Regions from separate parts of the Homo sapiens genome. Here all the other regions are linked to region 4. The links come from fine-mapping of genetic effects on gene expression. A gene starts in region 4. Each other region holds a variant in brackets. All regions are shown on one strand. Distances are between the middles of the regions.

What was found.
Region 1: its variant is fine-mapped to the expression of AMDHD2 in whole blood (INTERVAL, PIP 0.99).
Region 2: its variant is fine-mapped to the expression of AMDHD2 in blood mononuclear cells (TOPMed, PIP above 0.99). The same link has a PIP of 0.9 or more in T cells and whole blood.
Region 3: its variant is fine-mapped to the expression of AMDHD2 in whole blood (TOPMed, PIP 0.97).
Region 5: its variant is fine-mapped to the expression of AMDHD2 in whole blood (TOPMed, PIP above 0.99).
Region 6: its variant is fine-mapped to the expression of AMDHD2 in lung (TOPMed, PIP above 0.99). The same link has a PIP of 0.9 or more in monocytes, nasal epithelium, pancreas, tibial nerve and whole blood.

Annotation. Positions count from the first base shown.
Region 1 is chr16:2,581,750-2,587,105 of GRCh38, forward strand. PDPK1 (3-phosphoinositide dependent protein kinase 1) reads left to right here. Exons shown (of 14, transcript NM_002613.5): 10 at 1,663-1,836; 11 at 4,927-5,144. Among named protein-coding and RNA genes, the nearest start is that of PDPK1, 46 kb to the left of the region's middle. RefSeq lists an enhancer at 3,495-3,996. The variant G/A (reference allele first, on the strand shown) is at 3,129.
Region 2 is chr16:2,601,536-2,606,891 of GRCh38, forward strand. It overlaps PDPK1 (3-phosphoinositide dependent protein kinase 1), which reads left to right. Exons shown (of 14, transcript NM_002613.5): 14 at 1-1,653. It also overlaps the pseudogene LOC652276. Among named protein-coding and RNA genes, the nearest start is that of FLJ42627, 35 kb to the right of the region's middle. RefSeq lists an enhancer at 2,037-2,376. The variant T/C (reference allele first, on the strand shown) is at 2,858.
Region 3 is chr16:2,589,657-2,594,843 of GRCh38, forward strand. All of the region lies in intron 11 of PDPK1 (3-phosphoinositide dependent protein kinase 1), which reads left to right. Among named protein-coding and RNA genes, the nearest start is that of FLJ42627, 47 kb to the right of the region's middle. The variant C/G (reference allele first, on the strand shown) is at 2,347.
Region 4 is chr16:2,517,524-2,522,523 of GRCh38, forward strand. It overlaps AMDHD2 (amidohydrolase domain containing 2), which reads left to right and starts at 2,848. Exons shown (of 11, transcript NM_001330449.2): 1 at 2,848-3,018; 2 at 3,246-3,382; 3 at 3,461-3,600. The coding sequence starts at 2,936. ATP6V0C (ATPase H+ transporting V0 subunit c) reads left to right here. Exons shown (of 3, transcript NM_001694.4): 2 at 1,695-1,878; 3 at 2,018-2,695. The coding sequence ends at 2,222. RefSeq lists silencers at 2,714-2,823, 2,994-3,063.
Region 5 is chr16:2,339,919-2,345,274 of GRCh38, forward strand. ABCA3 (ATP binding cassette subfamily A member 3) reads right to left here and starts at 810. Exons shown (of 33, transcript NM_001089.3): 1 at 655-810. It also overlaps the pseudogene ABCA17P. RefSeq lists silencers at 431-490, 661-1,120. The variant G/T (reference allele first, on the strand shown) is at 2,135.
Region 6 is chr16:2,484,667-2,490,022 of GRCh38, forward strand. The region is part of intron 1 of TBC1D24 (TBC1 domain family member 24); the gene reads left to right. Among named protein-coding and RNA genes, the nearest start is that of TBC1D24, 12 kb to the left of the region's middle. The variant C/T (reference allele first, on the strand shown) is at 2,503.

The DNA.
Region 1 (5,356 bases), 64 kb after region 4:
GAGTCCTCTGAACCTGCTTTCTGAGTGGCTTTCCTGGAGGCTCCCGTGTTCACAAAAAATGGTGTTTTTAGGGTTAACAGTGAGTGTGGATCATTACACCTAGTCTCGCCAGACACATTGGCTCACGCCTGTCACCCCAGCACTTTGGGAGGCTGAGGCAGGTGGATCACCTGAGGTCAGGAGTTTGAGACTAGCCTGGCCTCTATGGTGAAACCACGTCTCTAGTAAAAATATAAAAATTAGCCGGGCATGGTGGCGGGCGCCTGCGATCTCAGCTACTTGGGAAGCTGAGGCAGGAGAATGGTGTGAACCCGGGAGGCGGAGGTTGCAGTGAGTCGAGATCGTACCACTGCACTCCAGCCTGGGCGACAGAGCGAGAGTCTCAAACAAACAAACAAACAAACAAAACCCAAACGTTTTGAGTACTTATTGTCACTTCTCAGTATCTGCTGGAGAGCACCCCGTACTGTTCCCCGCCCCCCCGCCCCCTCCATCCACCGCAGAGCAACTGGACGGGGAGGCAGGCCCTGGGATCCTGTGCTGCCCCTCAAGGCTCGGCCCCTTTCCTCGCACAGGTGAAAAGGAATCTCAGTCTCAAAACACAATGAACAGCAGCAAGGATTCTTTTACAGTGTATAGTTAAAAATCCTAAAACAAGAAACACTGAGTAATTAACAAAGGGAGCGAATCATCACTGGGACCAGCACGCTCCTGCGCTTGTGGAGTGGGTGTCGCTGGGACCCTCGAAGGCCGCAGAGCTGTCTCCTCCAGGGACTGATCAAGCCCACACCCCAGCCCAGGGGAAAGAGGTGAGACAGGTTGGGAGAAGCCAGTGGCTGTGGAGCCTAGCGATCCCGGGGCCACCTGCAGGGGCAGGACTGAGCCCGCTCCCAGAGTCGTGGTAAGGAGGGACGTCCAGGGCCAAAAGCACAGGAAGGTCAGGAGACTTCTGTTTCTAGAATATAAACTGATACACCTTTCCCAGGCTAACCTCTCTTCTCTGTTTTACCTGGGCTGGTCGTTCGAATTTTCATGTAGCTGACTCTAAAGCTGAAATGTACAGATGTCACGAACTAGGGTCTGCAGCCATCTGCGCTGTCATAACCCCAGTCGCTCCAGCACCAGTAACTTAAAATGCTGTGCAGTGTTGAGCAAATGCTAAATGGTACAGTAATTTCCGTTGATTTCTAAATTTTAGTTTCTTTTATTATTCCTGCTACAGTCATTTCCTGTCAAGAATCAGGCACTTGGAAATGGAAAGGGACTTATGATGAGATGAGATAAATATATATTTTTTTTTTTTTTTGGAGATGGAGTTTTGCTCTCGTCGCACAGGCTGGAGTGCCATGGTGCGATCGTGGCTCACCGCAAATTCTGCCTCCCGGGTTCAAGCGATTCTCCTCCCTCAGCCTCCCGAGTAGCTGGGATTATAGGCGTGCACCACCACGCGCAGCTGATTTTTATATTTTTAGTAGAGACGGGTTGTCACCATGTTGGCCGGGATGGTTTCGAACTCCTGACCTCAGGTGATCTGCCCGCCTCAGCCTCCCAAAGTGCTGGGATGACAGGCATGAGCCACCGTGCCCGGCTACCAGGTTTGGGTTTCTTTGGTCAGAATCACGTTTTCACCCTGGCAGTGACTTGTCTTGATTGTTACTTAAGGTTTTAGATGCCACAAAGCGGTTAGGCTGTGAGGAAATGGAAGGATACGGACCTCTTAAAGCACACCCGTTCTTCGAGTCCGTCACGTGGGAGAACCTGCACCAGCAGACGCCTCCGAAGCTCACCGCTTACCTGCCGGCTATGTCGGAAGACGACGAGGACTGCTATGGCAATGTAAGCTGGCCGGGATGGCGGGCGAGGCAGGTGGCACTGGGTCCTCCGTGCACTGGGCTTCATGCCCGTGCGCCAGACCCACGTGTGATTTGTAGCCGAAAGGGGAGGGTGTCTGTGCCACTGCGGCAGGCCTGCTGGTGGTTGTAGTCTTTGCTGCCGTGAGGCAGTGGCGGGTGAGGTGCTGGGTGGGTCATTTTCTCCTCATTTCCGTGGCCGTGGACAGGCTAGTGAGTTTCCACCCACAGGGTGCCGCTAGAACCGGACGCCGAGCACCCCCGGCACTGGCCCCGGGGTCCCACGTACGGGGCCTCCTGCCCGGCCTGTCGCATCTGCGCTTGGCTTGGTGCTTGTACAACTGTGCGGCCAAGATGCTCCAGAACACTGCCTGTCTTTCCACAGAAACCCCCGAGTGTTGTGTGCTTGAACTTTTGGGACGTGGCGTTGGTGGGGACACTGGTACCTTCTTCAGTGCTGAGTAGGCTCTGAGGCTGCTGGTCTCCCAGCTTGACCACAGCCATGGGGTCTTCAGCACGCTTGGCTCTTTAAGCTTCTCGTAGAGAGCGTGGACCATGTGCCCAAGGGACCGAGGGTGTTGTGAGAGGCAGGCATGTCGCCCACTTCAGCCTTGTTTCCTCTGAGTTCCTCTTGCCACCTCCCCCGTGACCCCCTCGTACTTAAGTGCTGTTATCATGAGATCCATTTTTCTGGTTTGACTTCTGTCGCCATGGCTTATTCTAACTGGCACCGTGTACGGAGTTCCACTTTCCATGACTGAGGAAGTCCAGATTTTGTTTGTTTTGAGACAGGGTCTTGGTGTGTCACTCAGGCTGGAGTGTAGTGGCGCGATCTCGGCTCACTGCAACCTCTGCCGCTGTGGGTTCAAGCGATTCTCCTGTCTCGCCCTCCCGACTAGCGGGAACTGCAGGTGTGCACCACCATGCCCGGCTAATTTTTGTATTTTTAGTAGAGACAGGGTTTCGCCGTGTTGGCCAGGCTGGTGTGGAACTCCTGACCTCAAGTGATCTACCCGCCTCGGCCTCCCAAACTGCTGGGGTTTTAGGCATGAGTTACTGCACCCAGCTGGGAATTCTAGATTTTATCTAAAAGTCATCCACAGCTAAATTTCTGCTAGTGTCAAAGTTTCCCAACGCCCCTACCTGCTGTGTAACGCCCCTCATCCTCCCGACATCCTTTGAGCCCAAACTCTAAGGGAGCCAGGCTTGGGGAGCGGAGTCTGTGCCGCTTGATGTGGCCACCTGCAGCTTTCATGTATGCAGAGGCCTGGGAGCCTC[G/A]AGGCCCTTGCCCCCACCCTGTGTGCCACTCAGCTGCTCCTGCGTGGTGTTTGGTTACGGCTGGCAGGTGCCACGGGGCTGCAGTGCTCTCCCTGCTGGGCCTGCTGTTGCTGCAGAGGTTTTGCTCGCGACTGGCTGGTGGCCGTTCTCCCGTGGGCTCTGTGCTCCATTGCTCCCAGGGAGGTAGCTGGGCTCTGAAGGAGCAGCACAGGCTTCAGTTGTCTCCAGTCTCAATGCCTGGGGAGCTTCTCTGAGTGTGGGGGTGTGTGTGCTTGCACTTGCCGCATACCTGTGCAGGCCCCTGTGCCTGGGCCTACTGAGAGCTGGGGCTGCTTGATACGTGGCTTCTGTTGCCGTCTGTGAAGCCAGGCTCCATTTGTTGGCAGCCGCCTGTTAGATGGCCCATCCTTAGCTCTGCACAGCTGTGTGGTTTGAAAGCCTTGGAGTGGGTCCAGGCAGGGAGCTCCCAGGCCAGACCTCACACGGGGACAGTGAGTGAGTCTTGGCAAACGGTGTCAAGCATGGAAGGAGACTTCAGGGCTGTACCTCCTCCCTCCCTGCAGGGCCGCACCCCCTCCTTCATGGGGAATGGGCACTGGGCGTCCCCTTCAGCCAGGGAGGTTGGCCATGGTACCTGCCCTTGGGCCAAGGCAGGAGAGCAGGTGCTTCGTTGGCTCCTGCTCTCCTGAGGTCCTGTAAGTGCCGGGGCAGTGTGACCATTGGGCAGTGTTGGAGACAAGCAGGCTGGGCAGGCCCACACCCCGTGGAGGGGTCGGCGTGGAGGGGCCGGCGTGGAGGGGCCGGCAGCGTCGGGCGTTTCCACCATGCCCGTTGGCGAGCACCTTGCTCCAGCCCAGCTGGGTGCGAGGCTTTAGGGCTGTGAGGCGGGGCTGTGGTGCAGCTGTAGGAGTGTGAACACATGGGGGACGCTGCATGTGTGGATGGTTGCGTGGGGCAGCAGCCAGGGCCTGCGTCTGGAGGCACGGAGGACGTGGAAGGGCATGCCGCACTCTTATCCTAGCCATTGCTCGTGGCACCTTTTCTTTCCCCTTGTCCTTGGCCTCCACAGAGCTCAGATGTGGGGCCTGCAGCCGGGGAGGTGGCTTCCCTTGCCCAGGGACTCTCTGGCCTTGGCAGTGCCAGGAGCGTGTTAGTGCACAGGCTGTGTCCGCTTGGCACGTTTATGAGTGAGTTTCCGTTGTCGACACTAGCTTGTCTTTTTCCTAGAGTAACAGGCAGCGTTATCTACAGTAAGTTTAGTTTATCTTTGCTGGGATTAAGAGGAATGTCTTTTAAACAATTGAATGTGTTTAGTCAAATCAAAATATTTAGCATCTACCACAGACTCAGACTCCTAAGACACCTGGGGCCCAACAAGGTCTTGCACGGAGGCCCTGTCTGCCAGCCTGTGTGATGGATCTGCCACCAGGCCTCCTTGGGCCCCTTCTCTTCCCAGCAGGCATCCCAGCCCCCACCTCCGGGGGGCAGCACTGGCATTCACGGGGCCCGCAGGGTAAGGGCCCAGGTCCCCTCTTCCTGGAGAGGAAATCTGAGGCTTCGCCCCTCTCTGGCCCTGATTCCCATGGGAAGAGGAGCCCGACCAGGCAGGATCCAGTGAGGCCTCGGTTCTGTGGCCAGGTGTCCCATGGAGGAGAATCAGGGCTGCCCACCCTGTCGCCTTGCGCCTTGCTGTGTGCGAGCTCCCAAGGCCTGACAGCGGCAGTGCGGGAGGGGCTGGGGTTTTAGGACCTTAGAGGCAAGTGAAGGTGCGGTTCTCACTTTCCCTTCTTCTCTGCAGTATGACAATCTCCTGAGCCAGTTTGGCTGCATGCAGGTGTCTTCGTCCTCCTCCTCACACTCCCTGTCAGCCTCCGACACGGGCCTGCCCCAGAGGTCAGGCAGCAACATAGAGCAGTACATTCACGATCTGGACTCGAACTCCTTTGAACTGGACTTACAGTTTTCCGAAGATGAGAAGAGGTTGTTGTTGGAGAAGCAGGCTGGCGGAAACCCTTGGTAAGAACTTATGGACATAAGCAATGCTTTTTGCAGAATTGCAGCGTGAACACGTGGGGGCTTATGGTGGGTGCCTTTGCCTTGTCACTGCCTCCCTCAGCAGCCTTGGACGCTTGGCCAAGGAGCACATCGTAAGTGCACAGTTGGAAACAGGTGCTTAGGAGGCAGCCGGCCCAGGGGCTGAGTGGGTTGTGACCGCCGGGCGCTCCCCT
Region 2 (5,356 bases), 84 kb after region 4:
GTTGAACTGACCTTGCCACATGCTTAGTGAGTGATTTGTAATTAAGTTTATAGACTCAGAAGGTATATTAGGACATTTGGAATCAGTAGCAGAGCAAAGCCTCTTTGAAAAAAACCACGTAGCTGATTGGGTTTTACAAGAGTGCATTTGTCTCCCCCTTCCACCCGTGGGGCCCCACCTTCAGGTCTTAGTGGTTCACAAGAGCCCAGCAGCCAGGCTGGCTTTTTCATTGTAGGGCGTGGTTGTCCCAGCTGGTGTAGATTTCAGGCCGCCCCCCCCAACTCCCTGCCCACAGTGTTGCAGATTGCCTGGCTGGCAGCAAGTCCAGACCACCCAAATTTGGTTGGATTCTTCATTTCTCCACTGTAGTTGGGGTCCATTGATTGTGCAGGGGAACGTGCAGGAGGTTTTTCTAGGCACCGTGTTCAGTGCTGCTTCACTCTACCAGAGATTATGGCCAAATTGCACGGAATTTGGTTTCTTGCCCTCTGAAGCCTGAGGGCCCCCCCTTGCCTGGCTGGTTGACAGACCCGGGGTGGTCACTGCTGAGACTTCAGAGATCGCAGCTGCTGTGAGAATACGGTGAAGGTACTTTGTTCTGGAAGATGTTGTCATACACTTTTCCCCAGTTATTTTCAAACTTGACATGAGCCTATGTTGACTCACTGGGTGGGGGTCCCTTCTTACGCAGCACACGTGGCAAGTGCCTGAATCGGGGCTGGAGGCACTTCAGAGCCTCTGAGGGGCCACCACTTCTGGCCCAAAATTGCAGGGTTGTAGATGAGGCTGCCTGTGGAGAACTGGTGTGAGGAGGAAGCTGTTTCCAACAAAGAGCACTTTCATCTGTTGAGATGGCTGTGGTGAGCAACTGAACGAGCCTACGTGTGTACCTGAATTTTCCCCGTAACTCATTTCTTCCATATGAAGAAACACCAAACTATGTACAGAGAACTTTTTACAAAAGGCAGACCTTTTTTAAGCTGTGTAACCCACATAGCCTAACCACCTGGCAGAATGACTACGAATAGGGGTCATTGTGCTGGTAAAAGCCTCTATTACGACTGTAAGTAAGTTGGATGTTGGCAAAATTAAATTGTTACAGTATTTAGAGCTGCTGTAGCTGTTCCTTCACAACATAAAATAGGATAAATGACTAGTACGTCTTTCAGGTGGGTGGCAAGCAGAACATGCGTAATATTCTCTACCTGGTCTGTAGCTGTAACTGTGATGTACAGACAAAGCAAAAATTAAAAGAACTTATGAAAACAAATGCAATGATACTAGGATATACACTTTTGTATTTTTATTCTTATATAAGGTTATTTGCTGGCTATTGTTGGCCTCTAGTTCAGTCTGTGTTATTTAAATTCTAATATATGAATTATTTGAATTGAATTCATGTTCGGGGCCACGTTGTTGTATGTATTGATGTACAGCCTTGAATGTGAATAATTATTGTAAACTATATTTTACAACTTTTTTTCTGGCTTTATTATATAAATTTTCTATTGGGTCAGTGATTTAATCATATAATTTAATGAATCTGTTTATCCTTTTTTTTTTTCCAAATACTTGTGCTTTAGGTGTAGTTACCAGATGATGAATTTTCCTCGTATGGTCAGTAGTCTTGTAATAAAAAGCATGTAGAGTGTAGAGGTTTGCTGGCGTGGCTCTTCCTTTGACCCCGCCACGGAGTGGGGGCGCGGTTGGGGGCGGGTGTCTGCCATTGCCCGCTAGCGTTGGCGCCCCAAGCTCGGTTTCACTCCCTCCGGAAGTGGGACCAGCCGGCTGCTTTTCCCGGATGGAACTTCCGCCTGCCATGTGACCGGCGGGTGTTCTACAAGGGCTGACCAGTGGGCGGGACAGAACGCAAAGGGCGATATTAAAAGCCGGACTCTTCCGGTGAAGCGGAGGTGTGGTGGGGCTTGCTGGGATCATGGCGGGGAATCACTGCGAGCTCCTGCCGCTGGCCCGTGGCAGGCTCGGGGCGGGGTTGGGGTGGCTTCTTGTGCCTCCCTTAAAGCGCGGGGCTCAGCGTCCTGGCCCAGCGCCCCAGCAGCAGGTCCAAGTGGGTCCGGCTCTACAGCGGCGGCACCTACTTCCTCACCACTGGGCAGACGCCGCTGTGTCAGGACCCGAAATCCTTCCTGTACCTCTTGAGCCAGGCCGACCCCGACCCGGACTCGGACAAGGTGAGGACCACGTGGGCCAGTCGAAAGGGCCTGGGCCATTTCGGCCTGTGGCCGCCGCACACGCCCTGCTCCACGCCGAGGAGAGCTCAGCAGGAGAGGGCGACTCTCCTCGGGCTTCGAGCCCAACACTCCCTTGTCGCCAGCTCATCCCCAGCTTGCCCCGATCCCCTATCCTGGGAGGGGAGGGCAAGGATGGCGCCCTGGTGTCCACTGCCTTTGAGAATCCTGAGTCGCTTCACCTTGGGGGTGTCTCTTCCTCGCCCTCTTTGCTCTTTGGTGGAGGAGGCTTCCGAGACCCCGGACTTTGCTGTGATTCTACTTTCTTTTTCTCACTAGGTTCTTTTGCCCAGGGTGTGTGAACGCCTTCTCTTCTCTGTCCCAGGGTACTTGCTGGCTCTGGAGACAGAACCCTTGGCGTTTCACATTCTGGACGTTTGAATTAACGCTGACGTGGGGGTTGATATGGGCGGCCCTTTTTTTCCCTGGTGACTTGTATTTAGAGAGTTGGCGCTCCATCCTTTCCATCCACAGCACGCAGCACCCACTCAGCACCTCTTAGAAGATGCGTCCATAGTATATACTGTGATTTTTCGAAGGGGATTTTGCTCATATTAAGGGTTGCTTTAGGGATGTCCAGGAAGGGCCAGGTAAGGAATCTTTCAATC[T/C]GCTTTCTAATTGGCTTAGTTTTCCCACTGTCTTCGCAAAAGGACAGGAATTTCCAGGTTAGTTTGCAGCTTGTCTTTCATCAAGCGAAATGCTCATGCTGTTGGGTAGATGGTAATAGAAACCTTTTGCTACCTTTATTTATCAAGAGTTGTGGAGCCGAGGAACCGTGTCTTGGGAGTTGTGCAGGATTGAAACTCACAAAAAAGCCTGTTTGAAGAAGTTGTTACCTATATTTATTCAAGGCAGTTCACAAGCCTTATACTAACTTTGCGGGGTCTTTCAGTTGAGCTTACATGACTGCGCTTGGCTTTGTGCCTTGGCAGCCAACATTTGCCATGCAGGAGGCTTCCCAGAAAGGTTCGGATCCCTCTTCAAGTTTGAGAAGCCTGACTGAGACCATTCTCAGCATGGCATGACCGTGATCAGGAAATGAGAATCTGGAGTTACTGCTAAGGCAGCCTTGTGGGTGGAAATGAGGGTTTGAGATGCCAACCCTCCTGTGCCTCCCCACAACTTCCAACTGTTTCCATTGCTCATTTGACCAAGCCCTCTACTCAGAGAATTGACCTCCCAGGAAATGACAGTCATCCCCAGGATAGAAATAGGCGTTTGTTAGCTGTGATTTTCCTTTTATAAGTGTGGGTGTGTGTTTTACTGTTTGGTTTTTCTTTTTAAATAACAGGGCTTAGTGGTCACTCCCTTGCCTTTCTACTCAAGCATTCCTGTTTTGTATATGAAATTAGAGTTTAAATTGCTCTTGTCCATTGGGTTCTTTGAGGCAATGGTTGTCTATTCAGCACTGGAGCACTTGATTCCCAGTTGATGAACTATAGCACAGTTAAGGTGGTTGATCCCTTTGCTTTACTGTTCCTTAAGACTTTGTTAAAAATTATGGGCCGGGCGCGGTGGCTCATGCCTGTAATCCCAACACTTTGGGAGGCCCAGGCAGGTGGATCTCGTTCAAAACCAACCGGGCCAATATGGTGATGCCCGGTCTCTACTAAAAATACAAAAAGGTGGGCGCGGTGGCTCACGTGTGTAATCCCAGCACTTTGGGAGGCTGAGGCAGGCGGATCACGAGGTCAGGAGATCGAGACCATCCTGGCTAACACGATGAAACCCTGTCTCTACTAAAAATACAAAAAATGAGCCGCGCGCGGTGGCGGGCGCCTGTAGTCCCAGCTGCTCTGGAGGCTGAGGCAGAAGAATCGCTAGAACCCGGGAGGCGGAGCTTGCAGTGAGTCAAGATCACACCACTGCACTCTAGCTTGGATGACAGAGCAAGACTCTGTCTCAAACAAACAAAAAAATGCTTTACGGTAGGAATCAATTCTTTGGGCGAGGGGTAATTAATCTTTCTGAATATATCTGTGTTATACTTGCTCTTTTCATTATCATCCATTTAACCAGGTTTGATTTCCAAATGGTAAAACTCAAATTCAGAACATGAAGGTAAAGTAGCAGATACAGTCGTCTCTGTCTCATACAATAATTGGAGTAGGGGCCGGGCAAGGTGGCTCACGCCTGTAATCCCAGCACTTTGGGAGGCCGAGGCGCGTGAATCACCTGAGGTCAGGAGTTTGAGAGCAGCCTGGCCAGCATGGCAAAACCCCGTCTCTACTAAAAATACAAAAAAATTAGCTGGGCATGGTGGCGCGTGCCTGTACTCCCAGCTACTCGGGAGGCTGAGGCAGGAGAACCACTTGAACCGGGAGGCAGAGGTTACAGTGGGCTGAGGTTGCGCCACTGCACTCCAGCATGGGCGACAGATCGAGACTCTGTCTCAAAAAAAAAGAAAAAAGAAAAGGAGAAAACAATAATTGGAGTAAATAAGGTTAGTTTTAGTGACAGATAATTTGCCAAAAGTGTAGTGCTAATTCATATTAGTCACGTTACTAAAGTGTTTTCCGGTGTTTTTCATCAAATGAGGAAATGTGTAAAATGCTTCATCTTAGTTTTGTCTCCAGTGGCTCTGATGAAAGAATGTCCCAGGAGATTCCTCCTAATTAAATGCTGACTGAGGAATCTGAGGAGGGGGGGAAGGGGTGTCAGGAGTGGGAGGCCATTAATGACACGTTGGAAGACAAACAGGATGTTGATTCACCTGTAAAGATCTCCAAGGCCTGACCTCAGAGTTGAGATTAAGGAAAGAATATTCCTCGAGTTGGACTTAAGCATGGATCTGGTGGAAGAGTCCCTGCCTGGATTATTAGACTTGTGTGGAGTGAGCACCTGGGCTTGCAGAGTGTGGGGGTCTGGAGAGGGGTTGGGTGGGGAGATTTAAGGGGGAGGAGTTCCCAAGAAACCATAGAAGCTTTGGGTGCCTGAGAGGTTGGGAGAGCACCCTGCTAAAGCATCCTATCTGGTAGGGAGGGGAGCTCTTGACAGACGGGTTGTTAGGGAGGGTGGTGAAAGCCACGCACATCAAGGGGCTGGCTTGATTGCCCTCTGGCCCCACATCTAAGCTTCTGGGCTGTGACTGCCCCCAACCAAGTCCT
Region 3 (5,187 bases), 72 kb after region 4:
CCAGCCTGGGTGACAGAGTGAGACCCTGTCTCAAAATTGGAAAAAAAAAAAAAAAAAAGGTAAAAGGAATTTTTAAATTTACATGGAATAGTTTACACTTAAAAGGAACATTTCAAAAATATGTGTGATGAGCTCTTTAAAATCCAATGTTGTTTGTAACAGCTTTTCAGACAATAAATTAAAGAGTCACTGAAGCTCTTAGAAGCTGCATTGTAGAGGCTGGAGAGGCCACACGGTAGCTGAGAGACAAAGCCTCCGGCTGCAGCACAGCCTCAGGCTTGGTCATCCTGTGCTGCCACAGTCCACAATGCAGTCGAAACTTGCTGGATTCAAGATACGACTGCAGGCACGAAGAGGGAGTTGACATGTCTGCTGCTGAGTTGTGCTTTTGCCTCACAGTGGATGAGTCTACAGACAGCCTGGACCTGTCGCTTGGCCTGTGTCCCCTGGCTTCTCATCACGGATGATGTTCTTTTTTTTTTGAGGCGGAGTCTCCCTCTGTCGCCCAGGCTGGAGTGCAGTGGAGTGATCTCTGTTCACTGCAACCTCTACCTCCTGGGCTTAAGCAGTTCTCCTGCCTCAGCCTCCCAAGTAGCTGGGATTACCAGGTGTGTGCCACCGTGCCTGGCTCATTTTTGTATTTTTAGTGAAGACAGGGTTTCACTATGACTTGAGGCCATGGCACCAAGCAGTGCCAGGGCAATAGTCATATCTTCACAGCACTCACCCACAGGAAGAGAGAGAGGAAAGAAACCAGTCTCGCTTCTGAGCCTTTGTTAAAAATGTTGAATGTTGTGAATACTTTGTGGGATGAAGTGGGAAGTATACAGAAGGGCACTCAATTCTGCCGCAAACATGAGTGTGCAGCCATCTCAGGGGAGACACGCTTGTGGCTGTTGGCCTGCTGTCCTCGCGGAGCGTCTGGCTGACGGGCAAACCGCCGTTATGCAGACTTAGCTATTTGGCCAGTATTTTTCTTGAAAATGATTGGAATGAGCTTGTTACTTTAAGGAAAACAACTGCCTGTATTTATGTCAGTGATAACATTGAAACCTTCAAGTGAAAATTGGAATTTTGGAAAACTTTATTCATTACTGTGAGCCTGATACCTTCCCAATAAAAGACTTTTTTTAGCTATGTTTTTTTGTTTGTTTATATTATTTTTTAAAAAGAAAGAGACAAGCTCTCACTATGTTACCCAGGCTGGTCTCGAACTGCTGGGCTGAAGCATTCCTCTCGCTTATGACTTCCCAAAGTGGTGGGATTACAGGCGTGAGCTACTGCACCAGGCCAAAAGTCTTTTTTTTTTTTTTTTTCTGTTTTTGAAACGGAGTCTCATTCTGTCGCCCAGGCTGGAGTGCAGTGGCACAATCTCAGCTCACTGCAACCTCCGCCTCCCAGGTTCAAGCATTTCTCCTGCCTCAGCCTCCCGAGGAGCTGGGATTACAGGCGTGTACCACCACACCCGGCTGAGTTTTGTGTTTATAGTAGAGACGTGGTTTCACCATATTGGTCAGGCTGGTCTCAAACTCCTGACCTCAAGTGATTCACCTGCCTCGGCCTCCCAAAGTGCTGGGATTAGAGGCCAAAAGTCATTTGATACATAGTGATATCCATGAATTGATCTGTGGAAACCGTAGAATGAAATTTGTCAACGTTTGGAAGCTTTACATCATTCAGCCCCCATGTATGACCCTATGAAATCACATGAGGGTAGAAGAGCCCCTAGTGCAGGGTAGATTGATGGTTTTTAGTGTCACGGTGTGTGGAAATGTATTGTTACGAGTCAGATTTCACATTGCAACCGAGCTTTAAGCAGCCACCACCTTCTGAACTGCAGTGTAGTGTCCAAGAAGAATATCCACAAACATCTACACTTATTCTTAGCCAAAAGGCCAGGAAGTGACTCCAGTCTCTAAAAAGGCTGAGTATACTCCTCCCTTTTCTAGCTGTTTATCTGAGTGAGGCTGGGTGTTTGCCGTGTTCTTCCGCCTGAACACAGATCTCAGCAGAGTATGGGCGCAGGTGGATGCGGGGACCCAGCACTCTCCTTATCAGCCGAACAGGAGAGGCCTGTGCAGCGCACAGAGTGGCACACTCTCCTCATTCATTATTTTTGTTTTGGAAAGTAGTTATTTTAAAAATAAAAGTAATGTATGTTAATAGTAATGGGTTTATTGTATTTTAATGAATTAAACATTTGAAAATGTCTCAGTTTTAATTTCCTGCGTAGTACATATCAGTTGATCTGAAAGCTCTTTGGGGTCTTCCACAGAGGTAAAGAGTGTGAGGGGCCATAGGACTGGAAGGTTGGAGAGGAAACCTGGGGCCCGTCCGCCATTGCCA[C/G]TGGCTCCCGCCCTTACTGGCAGTGAAGCTGAGCCTGCAGAGCCCTCCCGAGGGGTGGAAAAGCCTCCAGCGGGGCTCTGGGTCCTTGCTGGGGCTCTCCTGGGCGTGGCAGGTGCTTTGCCAGTGGCTTTGGGCTTGGATCCTTGACAATGCTCTTTTTGGGGTCTGGGTGAGGGAGGGTGGAGGAGGTGGCAAGAACCTGCGCTTTGGCATCGGGAAAGGGGGTTTTCTATGGTCACCCCTTGTGGATTGCCCTGCATCCTCCTCTGTGCAGAGGTGGGGAGAGGTGTCGCCTGTTTTGAGGGAGCCAAGATGGCGGTGTATGAGAGTGAGGTGCCTCGGGAAAGTCCCGTGTGCATGGCGAGTAGTTAGGTGTGTCTCCAGGTCTTCAGCTCTTGCCCAGCCTCCCAGGGAGGAAAGGGCTCTCAGGGCAGGGGATTTTCTGCAGGAGACAGTAGAAAATCAAGGTGATTGCAGCCTGGCCAACATGGTGAAACCCTGTCTCTACTAAAATTACCAAAAATTAGCTGGGCCTACTGGTGGGTACCTGTAATCCCAGCTACTCAGGAGGCTGAGACAGGAGAATCGCTTGAACCCAGGAGGCAGAGGTTACACTGGGCCAAGATTGTGCCATTGCCCTCCAGACTGGGCAACAGAGCGAGACTCTGTCTTAAAAAAAAAAAAAATCAAGGTGATTCCTGGAAGTGCTCACAGCAAGGAGCTGTTTCTGTCGTGAGCTGGCAGGTGAATCCGCTGCACACACGCTGTGCTCTAGATGCCGCCAGTGGAGCTTTGCCCGCAGTCTCTGTCCATGCACCCTGGGCCACCGGGGAGTGGAATTGTCCATTTCATTGTCTCTCTCAGGGGATGCTGGCGCGGGGGTGGGTGGCGCCTGTCCGTGGGGCCCTTGCCTGCCTCCCCGTGGTGCTGGCGTGTTCTGTCACTGAGCCACTCTGGGGCTTCAGTGTCCCTGGCATGGGTGACACTGCTGGGAGTGCCTCTGGGCTCCTTGCCTGTGGCCTTTTTTTTTCTCAGGATGGATTTCTGGAAGCGAGGCTACTTCTCAGTACTATTTCCGAATCGCTTCCTCAGTGAGTCCTCCCCAGGCTGCAGGTGCCGAGCGGGAGCACCACTCCTGCACGCCCGTGCCTGTGGCATGCCCAGATGATCAGGGTGGAGCGGCCCAGCTCAATGTCTTCATTTAGGGCCATTGAGAGTTTCTTGTGTCACTGAATTCCTCTTCTGGGAATTTTTAGTTTGTGTCATTTTGTTGAGTTTTCTGTTGGGTTCCAAGCCTCTCGTGGCACTGTGAATTTGCTGTGGGGTGCAGCTGATGGCCCATGGCGGCTGTATCTGGAAGTCCTTTCCCGCCCCAGCTGTGGTCCTGGTGGTTTTTTAGGTGGAGGTGGTTTCGTCCTCTTTCCGTGGCTCCCACAGCTCAGTGCTGGGCTGCTGTTCTCGCTCTCAGCCAGGAAGGCGGCCCCTCCCACACAGGTTGCAGGGATGGGCTGCTGTGTTCTTCTGGTTTTTCTCTCCTTCGAGTTGGTATTTTAAACCATGCATCTCATCACCTCTTCTGGCACTTGCTGGCGTGTGGTGAAAGCTGAGGATGGGGAGAGGCCGTGGGGCCCTCTCCGTCCTCATCTGCCTGCAAGAGCTCTGACTGGCCTGGGCTCAAAGGGACCCTGTGCCTCCCACGCTGCCTGCCCCGGTGTAATTTATGATGAATTTTCCTTTGTTGTTCCTCTGCGCTGTTGCCTGGTCACAGGCCTGTCTGTCAGAGTGGCTTCCTGCCGGCTCTGTGGTCCCTCCAGGCATTTCTGTGCTCTATGCTTTCTGTGCTGTGGTGGGTCTTCCTCATCACATGTCCTTTTCAGGAACCTCCTTGATCTGTTTCTCTTTGTTTTAATACCCACATTGTGTGTGTTTGCAGGCGAAGTCCCTGGTGCGAGAGGAGGGCTGCACTTGCCCGCATGCCACACACTCCTCTTGCTTCAGACCCACAGGATGGGATGTGTGTGTGAGGCCAGGCCCTGGGTCCTCCCTCTTGGGGCAGGCCTGGGCACTGATCTGCCCAGGTCTGGGTGGGTCAGATGGTGGGGCTGGGTAAGCCCTGGGGGAAGATGCTGTGCCCCCAACTCGGCCAGTCCGGTCTTCTCACAAGTGCTGTTGGCCCTGTGTGCAGCCAGGCAGGCGTGTGGATGTGCTCAGATATTGATTTGATCATCTTATGCCTTCTTCAAATATAAAACATATTATTGGCCGGGGGTGGTGGCTCATGCCTGTAATCCCAGCACTTTGGGAGGCCTAGGTGGGTGGATCACAAGGTCAGGAGATTGAGACCATCCTGGCTAACATAGTGAAACCCCATCTCTGCTAAAAATACAAAAAATTAGCTGGGCGTGGTGGTGCGCACCTGTAGTCCCAGCTACTTGGGAGGCTGAGGCAGGAGCATCAATCACTTGAATCCGGGAGGCAGAGGTTGCAGTGAGCCAGGATGGCACACCACTGCACTCCAGCCTGGGCGACAGAGCGAGACTCTGTCTCAAAAAAACCAAACAAACAAACAAACTGCATATTATTTCTATAGTAGAACCTCAGATCAGGAATTTCCGTAAGATCAGATAGAACACAAACCAGTAACTGTTAGCTTTAACCACATGAGGTAAACTGCAGACATTAAAATAGTATCTTGGGGCCGGGCGCGGTATCTGATGCCTGTAATCCCAGCCCTTTGGGAGGCCGAGGCAGGCGGATCACTTGAGGTCAGGAATTCGAGATCAGCCTGGCCAACAGGGTGAAACCCCATCTCTACTAAAAATACAAAAAAATTAGCCTGGC
Region 4 (5,000 bases):
CGCTCTCCTGGAGCATGTCTCTGTGCCTGGAGGTCACCGCGCCTGTGTCCTCACCCCTGCTGAGTGCTGGGACACAGGGTAGGCAAGTTTTGTGGCCCAAATATATCAATAAAATATGAAGAGGAATGGTAGGGGTAGTCCTGGTCCCTTCCACCTCTGACATATGTAGTCTTCTGCAGGTCAGGCTGTTTGTGTGTGTGTGTGTGTGTGTGTGTGTGTGTGTGTGTGTGTCTGTCAGAGATTCACTCTTGTTGTTTGTTTGAGACGGAGTCTCTCTGTGTCGCCCAGGCTGGAGTGCAGTGGCGTGATCTTGACTCACTGCAACCTCCACTCCTGGGTTCAGGCGATTCTCCTGCCTCAGCCTCCCTAGTAACTGGGATGACAGGCATGCGCCACCACTCCTGGCTAATTTTTGTATTTTTAGTAGAGACGAGGTTTCACCATGTTACCCAGGCTAATCTCGAACTTCTGACACCAGGTGATCCGCCCGCCTTGGCCTCCTAAAGTGCTGGGATTACAGGCGTGAGCCACTGCGCCTGGCCAAGTCAGGCTGGTTATTGATCTGCTCCCCTAAAAGACCATGGCATGAGTTCTGTGGGCAGAGAGGGGGCAGGGAGTTGCCAGTGCAGTCCCCACAAGCAGCTCAGTAGGCCCCTGTGGTGGCCCTGGAGGGCAGCTGGCAGAAGTCAGAAAGGCAAATGAGCCCCCGTGACACTGCTGTGTCCACAGAATTCTCCACTTTGAGAATAGGGCCCAGGAGAGGGGAACTGAAAAGAAAGGCAACATTCTCTTGGGAGAGGAAGGAGGGACAGCTCTGGAGGAGACAGGCCACCCTGGAGCCCAGCCCACCAGCACTGTTGCGGTGGGAGGCTTGGGCCCTCTGGCCAGGCTCCTGTGTGCTTGGAGCCACCCCGTGTGCAGGGGAGACCTCTCTGGGAGGTCAGCTGAGGCCTCGTAGTTGGACTGTTGATGATCCCCGTCGTCTTCTCTGCCCCCATCCTCTTCTTGGCTCACCCTGTCTCCTGTCTGGTAGAGAAGATTCTCCAATCTGTCAAGGGTTCAGGCCTGCTGTGTGGCTGAGGGTGCTGAGAGCTGCCCTTTCTGGCAGAATGTTTGGCCCTCCTAGGTTAATATTTGGGGCTGGGAGCGTTGGGGAGCTTGGCCTGGGCAGTGAGTCAAGGGAGCTCTGGCCTGGGTGACAAGAGTGGCCAGGTCAGCTGCTTCTGACCCTCCGGTCACACCCTGTAGCAGTGGCTTTGCCATCCCCAAGACCTTTGGTGGCTTTTCCAGCATGTTGTCCTGGGCAGTAGCCCCAAGGGTCGACTGACCCTGACCCCACATGGGGGCTGCTGAGGCTGCACTGAGGCTCCCTGGGGTGACAGGTGGGTTCACTGCAGAGCCAGGAGCCCCAGATGGGTCACGCCGCCCCAAGAGCTGCTGCTGGAGGAAGAGCTGGACTCTGAGGGTGGGGGCCTCACGTAGAGGAAGGAGGAGTGGCTGTCCTGGCCTCCTTTTGCTTGCCCGTGGCTGTTCCTCCTGGGTCCTCTTGCCCTGGGCTGGATGCCTTCTTCGGCTCCCCCTCTGCATGTGATAACTTGGGGTGGCCCTTGGAGCTGTGCCAAAGCTACACCTCGGGGTCCTAGTCTCAACTGGCCTGCGTACTGCTGTGGGCTCACCCCGCCTTCCTCCCACAGCCCTGGGCGCTGCCTATGGCACAGCCAAGAGCGGTACCGGCATTGCGGCCATGTCTGTCATGCGGCCGGAGCAGATCATGAAGTCCATCATCCCAGTGGTCATGGCTGGCATCATCGCCATCTACGGCCTGGTGGTGGCAGTCCTCATCGCCAACTCCCTGAATGACGACATCAGCCTCTACAAGTGAGCACTGGGGTCAGGCCCCTGCCCAGGGCTGGAGGACTGCAGGGAGGGGGGCGGTTCACCTGTGGGTGGTGACCCGGACCCTTGTCTCCCCCTGGTTGGCAGGCTGCTGATGTCAGTCCTCTCTTCTCGCCCCCAGGAGCTTCCTCCAGCTGGGCGCCGGCCTGAGCGTGGGCCTGAGCGGCCTGGCAGCCGGCTTTGCCATCGGCATCGTGGGGGACGCTGGCGTGCGGGGCACCGCCCAGCAGCCCCGACTATTCGTGGGCATGATCCTGATTCTCATCTTCGCCGAGGTGCTCGGCCTCTACGGTCTCATCGTCGCCCTCATCCTCTCCACAAAGTAGACCCTCTCCGAGCCCACCAGCCACAGAATATTATGTAAAGACCACCCCTCCTCATTCCAGAACGAACAGCCTGACACATACGCACGGGGCCGCCGCCCCCAGTAGTTGGTCTTGTACATGCGCAGTGTCCTAGTGCCCATCGTCTGTTTCCCCGGCCTTGCCCCCGCCCGCCCCGTGCCGTGGACATCTGGGCCCACTCATCGCCCCTCCAGGCCCCCGGCGCCCCACCCCCTAGAGTGCTCTGTGTATGCGGATGATTTAGAATTGTCATTTCTCTTTACTGGATGTTTATTTATAAAGATCTGGCCTGTTCCTGCGTCTGCGGAGCGGCCCTTGTCTCCCAGCTATCTATAACCTTAGCTAGAGTGTCGCCTTGTGGGTTCCTGTTGCTGAGACTTCCTGGATGGAGCCGCCCTCACCGCCGGGCCCGTGGCCCTGCGCGGAGCTGTGTCCAATAAAGTTCTTGGATGTGACGGGCCTGTGTCTGCTCAGCTTGTTGGGGGCGGGGGCGGGCGGGCGGGCGGGCGGGCGCCGGGCGCTGCCGGTCACGTGGGCTGGCTCGATCACGTGGGCGCGGCGGTCACGTGGCGCGCCGCTTCAGTCAGCTGAAGGTCACGTGGGCGCGGTCTCAGCTCTCGGCTGGGGTTCGTCACTGGGCGCGGGATTTGGCCGCCGCGGGGCTCCGGAGCCGCTCGCTCCCGACACGGCTCACGATGCGCGGCGAGCAGGGCGCGGCGGGGGCCCGCGTGCTCCAGTTCACTAACTGCCGGATCCTGCGCGGAGGGAAACTGCTCAGGTGGGCGCGGGCCGGGGACTGCGGGGCTGGGGACCGGGCGGGGTGCAGGGTGCGGGGCCGGGGACCGGGCGGGGTGCAGGGTGCGGGGCCGGGGACAGGGCGGGGTGCAGGGTGCGGGGCCGGGGACCGGGCGGGGTGCAGGGTGCGGGGCCGGGGACCGGGCGGGGTGCAGGGTGCGGGGCCGAGGTCAGGCCCGCGATGCGAGCGCCCACCCACTGCGTCCCCAGGGAGGATCTGTGGGTGCGCGGAGGCCGCATCTTGGACCCAGAGAAGCTGTTCTTTGAGGAGCGGCGCGTGGCCGACGAGCGGCGGGACTGCGGGGGCCGCATCTTGGCTCCCGGATTCATCGACGTGCAGATCAACGGTGCGGCCCGGGGCCGGCAGGGGAACCCAGGGGAGGAGCTCTGAGCTCCATGCGACACTTCCTTTTCTGTGGCTGCAGGTGGATTTGGTGTTGACTTCTCTCAAGCCACGGAGGACGTGGGTTCGGGGGTTGCCCTCGTGGCCCGGAGGATCCTGTCGCACGGCGTCACCTCCTTCTGCCCCACCCTGGTCACTTCCCCACCGGAGGTTTATCACAAGGTGAGGTGAGGCTCCCTGGCTGAGGTGGAGGGGGCTCCCGGAGCAACCAGCGCCCTCATTTTCAAACTCACGCCCCACCCCCCACCCCCAGCACGTATTCCATGGTCCTGAGTCTGGCCTCCTTTGATGACCGGATCTGGGCCTGGGTCCCGCCCCTGTGCTTCTTTATCAGTTGTCGCTCTGCCTGGCCTCCCTAGACCCTCTGTCCTCCGCAGCTGTCTCCACACTGCTGGCTCAGCACCGTCTGAGCCATAGGCCGTCCCCACCCCCTGCACTGCACTCTGGCTGCCTCCAGGCTTCAGAAACCATCCCCTTAACCAAGGCCGCAGGGGATTCTGTGATTGGCACAGCGATAGTCCCTGGTCAGGCTCTTCCTCCCTAACCTGTCTGATGTGTGACTCAGTGGAACACGCCTTCCAGAAGAGACTCCCCCTGCTCCTGTACTGCTTGCCCCACGCTTCCATTTTCTTTCCTGCCCGGAAGAAATTTGGTTGTCCTTGGTCTTTTTTTATTTTAATTTTTACTTAGGTTCTACAGGGTTAACTTTTTGCTGTATGTTACTACTATTCAGGCTCCTCTTGGCTGTACCTGTGCTACTGTTTTTTACTGAACTATTTGAGAGTAGGTTGTATCCAACATGCTTTTTTTTTTTGTTTAGTTTTTTTTTTTTTTTTTTTTGAGACGGAGTCTCGCTCTGTCGCCCAGGCTGGAGTGCAGTGGCACAATCTTGGCTCACTGCAGGCTCCGCCCCCCAGGGTTCACGCCATTCTCCTGCTTCAGCCTCCCAAGTAGCTGGGACTACAGGTGCCCGCCACCTCGCCCGGCTAATTTTTTGTATTTTTCGTAGAGACGGGGTTTCACCGTGTTAGCCAGGATGGTCTCGATCTCCTGACCTCGTGATCCGCCCGCCTTGGCCTCCCAAAGTGCTGGGATTACAGGCGTGAGCCACCGCGCCCGGCCAGTTTTTGTTATTTTTAAGAGACAGGGTTTCTCTCTGTGGCCCAGGTTGGAGTAGAGTGGTGTGGTCATAGCCCATTGCAGCCTCATTCTTCTCTGCTCAAGCGATCCTCTTGCTTCAGCCTCTTGAGTAGGTAGGACTACAGGTGTGTGCCACCATGCCCAGCCAATTTTAACATTTTTTGTAGAGAAAGTCTCACTGTGTTGCCCAGGCTGGTTCTGAACTCCTGGGCTCAAGAGATCCTCCTGTCTTAGTCCCCCAGAGTAGCTGGCACTACGGGCTTGTGCCACCACACCCGACTAATTTAAAAAGCTTTTTCGGCCGGGCGCGGTGGCTCACGCCTGTAATCCCTTTGGGAGGCCGAGGCAGGCGGACCACGAAGTCAGGAGATCGAGACCATCTTGGCTAACACAGTGAAACCCCGTCTCTACTAAAAATACAA
Region 5 (5,356 bases), 180 kb before region 4:
CGCCGAGAACGCGGCCTCCGGCGACTGCCACAAGCCCCTCCGCCTGGACTAGCGGCTCCCCTTTCCCGTTCCCACACAGTGGAGGGCGCAGCAAACGCCCGCCGCGGACCGTGGGCCTTGGATTCGGATTTGGAGGCTCCTCGGAACCAGAGGGTGGGAGCAGGCGGAATCCAACCCGGGCGGCTTTGCCACCGCGCGCCCGGCATCCCTGCGGCCGGAAAGCGGCGCCATCTCCGCAAGTGCGCGGCGGACGCCTGCATCCCTCGGGGCCGGGGCTGTCGGTCGCTACATATCCACCTTCTGGGCGCACACAGAGGGCCCGGGCCGTGCCGAGTCTCCGCAGGGTCGAGCTTCCCCGCGCGGCGCGGGCTCAGGCACTGCCCGCAGTGCGGGACACGCCCAAGGCTCGGATGGGAGCCGACGCTGAGGGAGCGGCACCTGCAGGGAGCGCCCGGAGCCGAGGCCGCGGCAGGAGGGGCGGGCGCGGGCGCGGCCGGAGGGGATGCGGGGTCGCGGGAGGGGCCCGCAGGCCAGGCCGGAGCTGGGGGGGGCCCGAGGCCCGAGCTGGCCGGCGAGGGTGGGAAGGGCGGACCCGGGTGGGGACCGCAAGCCCCGGGAACGAGCGCGCGAGCGGCGGGTCCCGGCGGCACTCACCGAGCCTGGGCGCCGGGGCGGCGGCGGCCGGCGCGCGGCCCTCTCGCGGGGTCCCCTCCCTCGGCCACCCGGGCTCCGCTCCAGCCTCGCAGTGGCGGCGGCACTGACAGCTGCGTGGCCGCCCTGGAGGGGAGGGTGCGCCTGCAACCCGCTACTGGCGGACGCAGCGGCCGCTCCGGCTCCTGCAGGGGGCGCCGCGGATGGCGCGTGCGCAGTCGGCCGCCCCTGCAGGTGCCCGGTCCACCCCCGGCCGCCTCGGCCGCTCCGGCCAGCCCAACCCCGCGCCTGCGCGGTGCCCCCTGCATGTCGCCCATGCCCGGCAGAGGGCGCTCTGACTTGCGCGTGCGCAGTCAGCCACCCTGCGAGTACGCGGTTCGCACCCGGCCGCGCGGCAGCCCGTGCTTGCGCACTGCTCTGTGCCCGCGCCTATGTCCAGCAGGGGGCGCGCAGCGGCGGTAGCCGAGCGAGGGCGCGGTGGCCTCTGACAGGAATGACTCTGCGCACGTGCGTTTCGCAGCAGTGGAAGTCTTCACACCCGGAAACTCGACTTTGGCCGTTTCTCCATTTCTCCTCACGCACTGTCTTTCCTTGGGCCCTCGTCACTCCTGGCACCGGGGGAAGGGCTTCCCCGCCTCTGGCCGGGCGCTGGGGCGCGACCGAAGGCGAGGCGGCGGCGAGGAACCTTCTGGAATTCGGCCGTCGGGGCAGGCGTCGAGTTTACAGGAGAAGGCGCGGTGTCCCGGGATGAGCGGAGTCGCCCTCACTTAAGGAGCGAGGGAGGCCTCGGGGGTCCCCAGCCGGGTAGGAGTCACCTCAGGCAGGAGGGCCCGGCCTTGTCGGGGTCACCTGGCGGGAGGGTCCCGGGGTGGGGCGGGGCCGCCTGTGAGGAGGGTCCAGAGAGGGTCGGGGTCACCTGAGGGGAGGGTGGGGGGGTTCGGGGATGGTTGGGGTCACCCGACGGGATGGTCCGGGGAGGGTCGGGTTCACCTGAGGGGAGGGTCGGGGAGGGTCCGGAGAGGGTCGGGGTCACCTGAGGAGGTGGTCCGGAGAGGGTCGGGGTCACCTCACGGAGCGAGCGGAACGGGGTCACCTGGAGGGAGTGTCCAGGGCGGGGGCCCTGCAGGGAGTCGCCTGCAGGGAGGGTCCCGGGCGTGTCACATTAGGCGGTCCCAGGGACGGGTCGCGGTCTAACGGGACGGGAGTGGGGAGGTGGGTCGGGGTGTCCCTGGGCCGGACCGGGTCGTGGGACTGGGTCGCCCCAGGCAGGAGAGCCTGGGAGGGGCGGGCCCCCTTGGCGTGGCAGGGAGAGGTGGAGTGAGGGACTCCCGGGCTCCAGCATGAGGGCGGGCGCCGCGCGGGGCCGACAGTTGCCGCGGGCCGGGGCCAATGGGTCCCCGAGCGCCGCCAGCGGCCGGACCACAGTGAGGTGCGTCCGTGGTCCCGGCGCCCCGGGTGAGGGAGGGCTGCTGCCGGTCCTGCC[G/T]CTGGGAGCCGCCTGCGACCCGCACCGCCAGCCCCGCGCCCAGCCAGCCGCCGGCACCACGACCCGACGGCCCCGACCTAATGCAACGCCCCGGGCCGGGGGCGGAAATCGCCCACCCCCAAGAGTCCTGATGGAGTAGGGTTTGAGCGGCTCGTTCCCCATTTTACTGTGTACATAGCACCTTTCACTCTGATGATGTTCTGGATAGCCCATTCCGCGAGCAAAGGGACTTCGTCAGGTTCATGCCTAGATCCAGGGTCCTAGAGTGCCTGGGGCGGAGGAGGCTCATGCTAAATAATTTGTTCAGTGGAATCACAGAGACCTGGCTTCAGATCTTGACCCACCAATTAATGTAGACATGTCATTTTATCTTTCTGAGTCTCAATTTCCTATCCCTAAAATTGAAATTATAATAATAGTAATTAATAATAATAGCAAACTCAAAGGTTTTTTGTTGGTGTATTCTTTTCTTTTTTGGGTCAAATGAGAAAATGCATGTTTAAGTGCTTACTACAATACCTGACACATAAATGCCAAATAAATGGTAGTATATAATGTGAGTATAGCTAGGGATTTACATAGCCTAGTCTCCGTAATGAGCATACAGGGGGAAAAAAAACCCCAAACAATTGAATGCAGTTACAGGATGGGTGGGGGAGTGGATTATTAATGCGCTGCAAACATCCTAAAAACCCCCTTTCCCCATCAGTCTTCACAGACTGCAACACCCCATCCAAAATGTCTTCCCCATTCTCTGCTTCGTCCCAGAAAATGATGTGAACTTGGCTGCTTGGCCCTGTCTTCACCCGGTCATATCCTCAGTCATTTTTCTTTCCAAAACCAATCCTTGCCATTTCCAAATTGAATTTGTTAGACCTTGCACGTTTTTCCGGCCTTTTCAAAACTGGATCCCAATTCTCTGTAACCAAATCCAGTACCAGAACTGGCTGACTCAGAATTTACCTTAGATGGAAGATAGGGTAGGAATTTTGGAAGAAGGATGACCTTACAGATCAAGACAGACAATTGCAGGGTACTAATTTTATATCTTTTTTCTTAACTCTGCCAGGTTAATTGTTAATTATTATAATCACAATCATGAGGTGGGAGGGTGTGAAGGCCACTGGGAAAAGTATCTTATGCCCAAAAATTTCAGGCTCTGAACTGTTAAAAAACAGTTGCCCACAGTGAGCTGGACCCTTTTGATGCCCTTCAACAATCCCTGGATAATTCATCACATTGTGCTCAAGGCCCACTACTGAAAAAATAAAGCAAACCTAGATGCTCCACCTAGTCATTTCTTTCCAGATGGAGGCCCAGATAAGGTCATAATTTCTTCAGAGTCACCCAGTAGAGCTGAGATGACAACCTCCGTGTTCAGGCTCCTGGACTCTACCCCTCTCTTATATGGAAACACTCACATCCATATACCATGAATACATGCTGAGAAATTGAAGGATACACTCCTTGAAGTTACTATGGTTCAAACATTTCTTTTCTCTCAAGATTGATGGTAAACATTATAGTGGATGGTGACACTCATAAACAAATCTTACAGCTTCACAAAAGGCAGTAAACCTAGCCATTATACTAGTCGGCTAGATATAATTAAACCAATAAGCTCCCAATTCTTTGAAGGGGTACAAATACTATACCCTATCTATCTATCTATCTATCTATCTATCTATCTATCTATCTATCTATCTATCTGTCTATCTATTGTATCGTACAACAGTACCCAAATTGCTGATATTCAATACAGTATCTTAGAATAGGGCTTCTTTGATTGTTTCCCTGGGAATGATGTTATAATTCAGAGACGCATTGTAGACCAAGGGCTGTACACATATTCTTTCATTCAGTGATTGGGAAGCATTATATTGTAATGGTTAAAACTGAACTCTGGCCATATTGCCTCAGATTAAATTCCAGCTCTTAATGTCTTTAGGCAAATTACTGGACCTTTCTGTGCCTTGGTTTCCTAGTATAAAATGAGGATTGTATAACAATTCCTCACAGAATTGTTGTGAGGATTAGATGCATTAAAACATGTAAAGTACAGGACTTAGAAAAGTCCTTGGCATTCGGCAAGGGCTCAATAAGTGATCTAAGCATTATACTGTATGCTTTGGAAACAAACGCATGAACATTTTTTTTTTTTGAGACGGTGTTTCACTCTTGTGGCCCAGGCTGGAGTGCAATGGCGCAATCTCGGCCCACTGCAGCCTCCGCCTCCCGGGGTCAAGCGATTCTCCTGCCTCAGCCTCCCAAGTAGCTGGGATTACAGGCATGCGCTGCCATGCCTGGCTAATTTTGTATTTGTAGTAGAGACGGGGTTTCTTCATGTTGATCGGGCTGGTCTCGAACTCCCGACCTCAGGTGATCCACCACCTCGGCCTCCCAAAGTGCTGGGATTACAGGCATGAGCCACTGCACCCGGCCCAACAAATGAAATTTATGTGTTTTGAAGGATCTCACAAAACAGAGTTGCTTAATTCGATTTAGTTTTCACTGTGTGCTTACTATATGCCAGATGAAACTTGAAATAAAAATGTGAATAAGCCACCATCTATACTTTAATAGAATTCAGAGTGCCCAACAATATGTTGTTAGAAGCAAAGATACAGCAATTGAAGACAATACAGACTATGAGTTGCAAAAATGGGCATTAATACATGGACTATCTCAATTATTCAGGGATTTCCTTTGTACTATTAAGTAGTACAGAAACTATAAGTAAGCTGTTTCCTAACTATATTTGTCTAAACCAAATCACTCGCTTTAAAATAGTTATTTTGCTTAGGTTTTAAACATTTAGAAATTTTGAGGAGATGATTTTTATGGATGATTTGCATGCTCTCAAATTAATTTTAAATTTAACAAGTGTTACATGAATATATTCTTGTTGAGAAATTCAAACTAATAGGCAAACCAAAATTCTTTGTAACCGCCATCCCCTTCCCTGATTTCCTCTCCATGGTCATAGTTTGGTAAATAAGCTTCTTAAAGTTTTTTAAATGTATTTGCACACATATATAGATTAGCCTATACAAGTGTAGCATTATTTATCATTTTTCCATAAATGATATTCTGTGGGCATGATTCTTCAGTTTTCTTTTCAGAAATGAAAATTGGACATTTGACATTTGAACCTCTCTCCTGTGTTTGGAAAACTCTCCATCAATGTGATACAATGGTGGAAAGCGGGGTCTAGGCTCAATG
Region 6 (5,356 bases), 33 kb before region 4:
CAGTGGCTCTCTTCCGTCGTGGTCCACTGTGCCAGCTCCATTGTTCCAGGGCTGAGGCCTAGGGCGGTGGGGCTATATGGCAGGAGGAGTGTCTGCACTTTGGGCCTCTGCCTGGGATTTATTTGTGTCTCTGAGGCATCCAGCAGACTCTTGGAGGACAGGATGAGGTGTTCCCTGGCCTTTCCCAGCACGTAGGTGGGAGGCCTGGGCCCCTCATGAAGAAATCAGACTTGGCGTGGACTTGCAAGGAAGGTCCCCCAGCCGGAGGAGGCGTCATCCCCTCCCTGGGGCTGAATGCTGGGGCCACCTCTCCCCTCATGCCTGCCATCCACACCCCGCTCCAGGTCTGCTTTTAGGCCCCAGTCCCTGCCCCATCTAGTGTGTTCTTCCAGCCTCCCTCCACCTACTCTCCCAGCACCTCTGTGATGTTGTGAAATATCTATTTGGTCTTTGTCCTTGTTTAGTGACATACAACTCCTGAAATCCTCAGAATCTCCGTGGTGCTCTTTCTGTGCGCTGGTGTTGACTGATAGCTTCCGGGTGGCGCTGGTCACTGGAAAGACCAAGGCAGGATTAGCGGGTTAGAACTTTCAGCCCCACCCCCAACCGCGGGGAGGGGAGAGGTCCAGAGGTGGAAGGTCAAGTTGATTGCCAGTGGGGTAATCAGTTATGCCTACTTAACAAGGGCTCCATGTCAACCCTAGAAGACAGGACTTGGAGAGCTTCTGGACAGCTGAATAGGAGGGAGTGCCTGGAGGGCAGCACCGTGTCCCTCTCCCGTACCTCACCCTAAAGGTCTCTTCATCTGTGTCCTTTGTAACAACCTTTATAATAAACTAGTGAATGTAAGTGTTTCCCTGAGTTCTGTGAGCTGCTCCAGCAAATTCATTGAACCCAAAGCAGGGGTTGTGGGAACCCCAACTTGAAGTTGGTTGCTGAGAAGTTCCAGAGGCCTGGACTTCTGACTGGTGTCTGGAGACGTGGGGGGCTTGTGGGATCTGAGCTATCTCCAGGTAGATGTCTCCCGGTGTCGGGATTGAATTGGAGGACACCCTGCGGGCGCCCGCTGCAGAATGGATTGCTTGCTGCCGGGAGAAACCCCCGCATCTTCTGGGTCGCAGATCCTGTGCCGATTGCGGTGCTGGCGTCAGAGCAGAGGAAAACGTGGTATGAGAGTTTTTCCAAAGAGTCCAGACACGCTTCCAGGCCCTCTCAGCCACCCCCACACCGTCCCTACCATTCCCACCTGGCCCGCTGCTGCCTGTGCCCCAGGGTTTCCGGGCACTCCGAGCTTCCCTGGCAGGCAACAAAGCTCTCATCCCTGGATCTTGCGGATCTCGCGCCCGGGCTGGAATGCCTGTGCTGCCCTCCCCTGCCTGGCGGGTGGGGTCGGTGCTCAGGAGCGGGTGGGGCCTGCCGGTCTCCCTAGCCCACCACCAGGTTTCCTCTGTATCCCCGCAGCACTTGGCAAGGTCCAGGGGCTTCCGTGGGGAGCGAGATTGTTTTGGATCCCGCCAGGGGAGCCCACTGAGAGGAGCCTGCATCTCCTATCACGTGAAGCCCGCAGGGGCCACAGCACCTCCTTCCTGTGGTCCCTAGCTGCGGGCGTTGGCGTTCCCCACCCATGGGGCCCGGCCTCATTTCCTCTTCCTCTTCATTCCCGGTCCCACTCCCAGGAAATGGTGAGGGATTGCTCAGACCAGATGGGAAGAAGTGAGACGAGCGGCAGCTGACGCCCATGCCCTGTTCTGTGGCCCGTGACTGAGGTCCAGCCACACAGAACCCCGCGTCCTTGATAGCTTGTCAGCTGCTGGGACGGGGGCTGTTCTTGTGGCCAGGATGTGTGTGGTGGTCAGGCCAGGGCAGGATGGGGCCCAGGCCTGCAACCCCAGCTCTTCAACCTGGAGTCCTAGCGAACACTGACCTACGTTGGGACAGGGCTGCCTCTTGCCCAGGGGGCTGCAGTTGGCCCCTTGGTGGCATCTGGGAGTGTGTGGGAGTGCCTTCTGTGCTGTGGGCCTCATCCCCAGGGCTCTACCTCCAGCCTGAGCTGCTCTGGCATTTGCCTAAGAAGCATCTGTATCGAAACTGGCTTTGAAAACTTCACAGTGGAGCTTCCCTGGGCTGGAATTCTCTGTTTGTCGCTCGCCCCCGCCTCCAGCATCCCCAAGTGGCCTGGGCTCTGACTGCCACTGTCAGGCCACGGTCCTGTGGGATCCAACCCTGAGCCATCTCTGGGGGTCCCCTCATCTTCTCCACCCTCCCGGTCTAGACTCTGCCTTCCTTTCTCCCTGGCTTCTCTGTCCCAACCCTTCCTCCTCCAGGGCCACCAGGGGGATTTTTGTAAACGCAGATCTGATCGGGTCACCTGCCTAGACTTTCCTCCTACCCCGTGTGGGGACACCCGCCTCTTAGCGCATCCCAGCCCCTCAGCACTGCCAGGGCCGCCCAGCTCGCCTTCGCCCACTCTTGCCTCCACATCTGAGGGGCACCGTCCCCACC[C/T]ACAGGCTGCCTCCACACCTTTCCGCCCCTTCCACAGCAGCAGGCACAGCCCTGCCCGTGGGGTTCCCCTAGCACTTCCCCAGCTGCCGTGGTTGACAGCCTTCTCTCAAGCCGCCTCTCCCTGGCACAGAGGCGGCACCTCAGTGGAGGTCTGTCATGTGACTAACTGCAGGACGAGGGAGCCGCGGTCGTATGCTGCCTCCTCACGTTTGCTGTGACCTGGGACAGGAGCGGTCCCCAGGAAGGGAGGCACGGTGTCGGGGTTGGTGTTGGCCGTGTTAAAATGTCATCAATGAGGCTAAATGTGTGTTCTGTCTTTGTACATGAAAGAGAGTTTGTTTTCAAATCCGGTTGTTTGGGAAAATCACATTCCCCTCTGAAGAAGCGAGACGTGCAGAGGCCTCGTGACTCAGGCTGTCAGGCCTGGAGTTTGGTGCTGGAGTTTTGTGCTGGAGTTTGGTGTTGGAGTTTGGTGTTGGAGTTTGGTGCTGGAGTTTGGTGCTGGAGTTTGGTGCTGGAGTTTGGTGCTGGAGTTTGGTGTTGGAGTTTGGTGTTTGGGGATGGCAGGTGGTGTTACTAGTGGCAGCCTTGCCGGGGTGGCCTGTGTCTCCAGGACTCGTGGGAGGGCCCTGGTACTAGAAGTGGCCGAGTGCCCTGAAGTCCCAGACCTGCGTGGGTCCTGCCTGTGCTCAGGGACCCTCTGGAGCCTCTCTCGGAGGTCCTCGCTGTCCCAGGATGAAGGGAGATGGAGCAGCAACAGCAGCCAGCAGCTGTGGGGTTGTGTTCCGCCCCGAGGCTGGGGTGAGCTGCTTGTCTGCTGGAGCGAAGGGGCCAGCTGCCCCGCTGGGGCCCCTCCTGCCCCGTTCTCCAGTGAGGATCTACTTCCTCCCACATCCATGCTACCTCCCACCTGCCTCCTGGCTAGAAATTAGCTCAGGGTGCCACACTCTTGACAGACGGCCCGCCTCCCAGCCCTGGCCGCCTTCCTCTTCCTGTGGGCGCCTTCAGGGGGTTTGCTGCCAGGGACGGATTTGGGGGTTTCTTGGAGCTCCCATGGAGTGAGGACATAGGCTGCTGTTGGGTGTTCCTGGCTGAACACTGGTCAACTGGCAGGAACTGCCCTCCCTGGGAAGGCTGCTGGGGCTGTGGCGGGGTGGGGGTCTGCAAGCCTGTAGCCATTTAAAGGGCCCCTCCTCACATGTGGTAGAGCCAGAACTGTGCCCTGTGGCCAGAGGGCACGGTGGTCACATGCGTCAGATGACATATCAAGATAACATTTTGGGGAAATAGAAATCGCTTATACTCATTACTCATTCGCACATAGCTTTTTTTTTTTTTTTTTTTTTTTTTTTTGTGGGATGGAGTCTCGCTCTGTCGCCAGGCTGGAGTGCAGTGTGCAGTGGTGCAATCTCGGCTCACTGGAAGCTCTGCCTCCCGGGTTCACACTACTCTCCTGCCTTAGCCTCCTGAGTAGGTGGGACTACAGGCGCCCGCCACCACACCTAGCTAATTTTTGGATTTAGTAGAAATGGGGTTTCACCATGTTAGCCAGGATTACAGGTGTGAGCCACCGCACCTGGCTGCTTTTTTTTTTTTTTTTTGAAATATTTGGCCGGGCGCGGTGGCTCACGCCTGTAATCCCAGCACTTTGGGAGGCCGAGGCGGGTGGATCACGAGGTCAGGAGATCGAGACCATCCTGGCTAACACGGTGAAACCCCGTCTCTACTAAAAATACAAAAAAAAAAAAAAAATTAGCTGAGCGTGGTGGCGCGTGCCTGTAGTCCCAGCTACTTGGGAGGCTGAGGCAGAAGAATCACTTGAACCCGGGAGGCAGAGGTTGCAGTGTGCCGAGATCGTGCCACTGTATTCCAGCTTGGGTGACAGAGTGAGACTCCTTCTCAAAAAAAAAAAAAAACAAGAAAGAAATATTTGCTTTGGAGCAGGAACAGAGTGAGACCCTGTCTCAAAATGAATGAATGAGGCATGGCCCAATGGCTCACGCCTGTAATCCCAGCACTTTGGGAGGCTGAGGCGGGCGGATCACGAGGTCAGGAGTTCGAGATCAGCCTGGCCAACATGGTGAAATCCCATCTCTACTAAAAATACAAAAAAATTAGCCGGGCGTGGTGGTGGGCGTCTGTAGTCCCAGCTACTCGGGAGGCTGAGGCAGGAGAATGGTGTGAACCCGGTAGGCGGAGTTTGCAGGGAGCCGAGATCGCGCCACTGCACTCCAGCTTGGGCGACAGAGCCAGACTCTGTCTCAAAAAATAAATAAATAATAAATAAATAAATAAACGAGCGAACAAATGAATACAAACATTTGCTTCTGATCTGCAGGTACCTTGAGCTCTCAAACAGGCGTGGCGTTTATGAGGAAAGGCCATGTAGGTCCCTGGAGAGGCTTCCCGGGTGAGAAAGAAGCCGCACTGGGTATGGAGGGCAGCTTGGCTGTGGAGAGAGGCATTAGGAGGGGACGGTGGCCTGTGAGAGAGCTGCCCCTGGCCCGTGCAGTTGCACCTCCCTCTGCAGGACCGGCTGCGTGTTGACCCGCTGGGACCGTGATGTCCCAGGCATTCTAGAACACCTTTCTAGCACCTGGCCTGGGACCCTGTAAGGATGAGAGCATCCTCAGGCAGCTGAGCGGTCCTGGCCGGCCGGGCTGGGCTGAGTGCTTTCTATCAACAGGCTCAGTAAATCCCGCAACAGAACAGGGACTAGAGCCCATCCCTTGCCAGTTTCCCACTGCGCTTGGAATATAATCCACGGGGGCTTGTGGGTGTGTCCGTGCTGCCCTCTGCGCCCTGTAGCGCAGCCAGCCTGTTCCTCCCTCAGCCTTTGCACCTACTCTGCTGG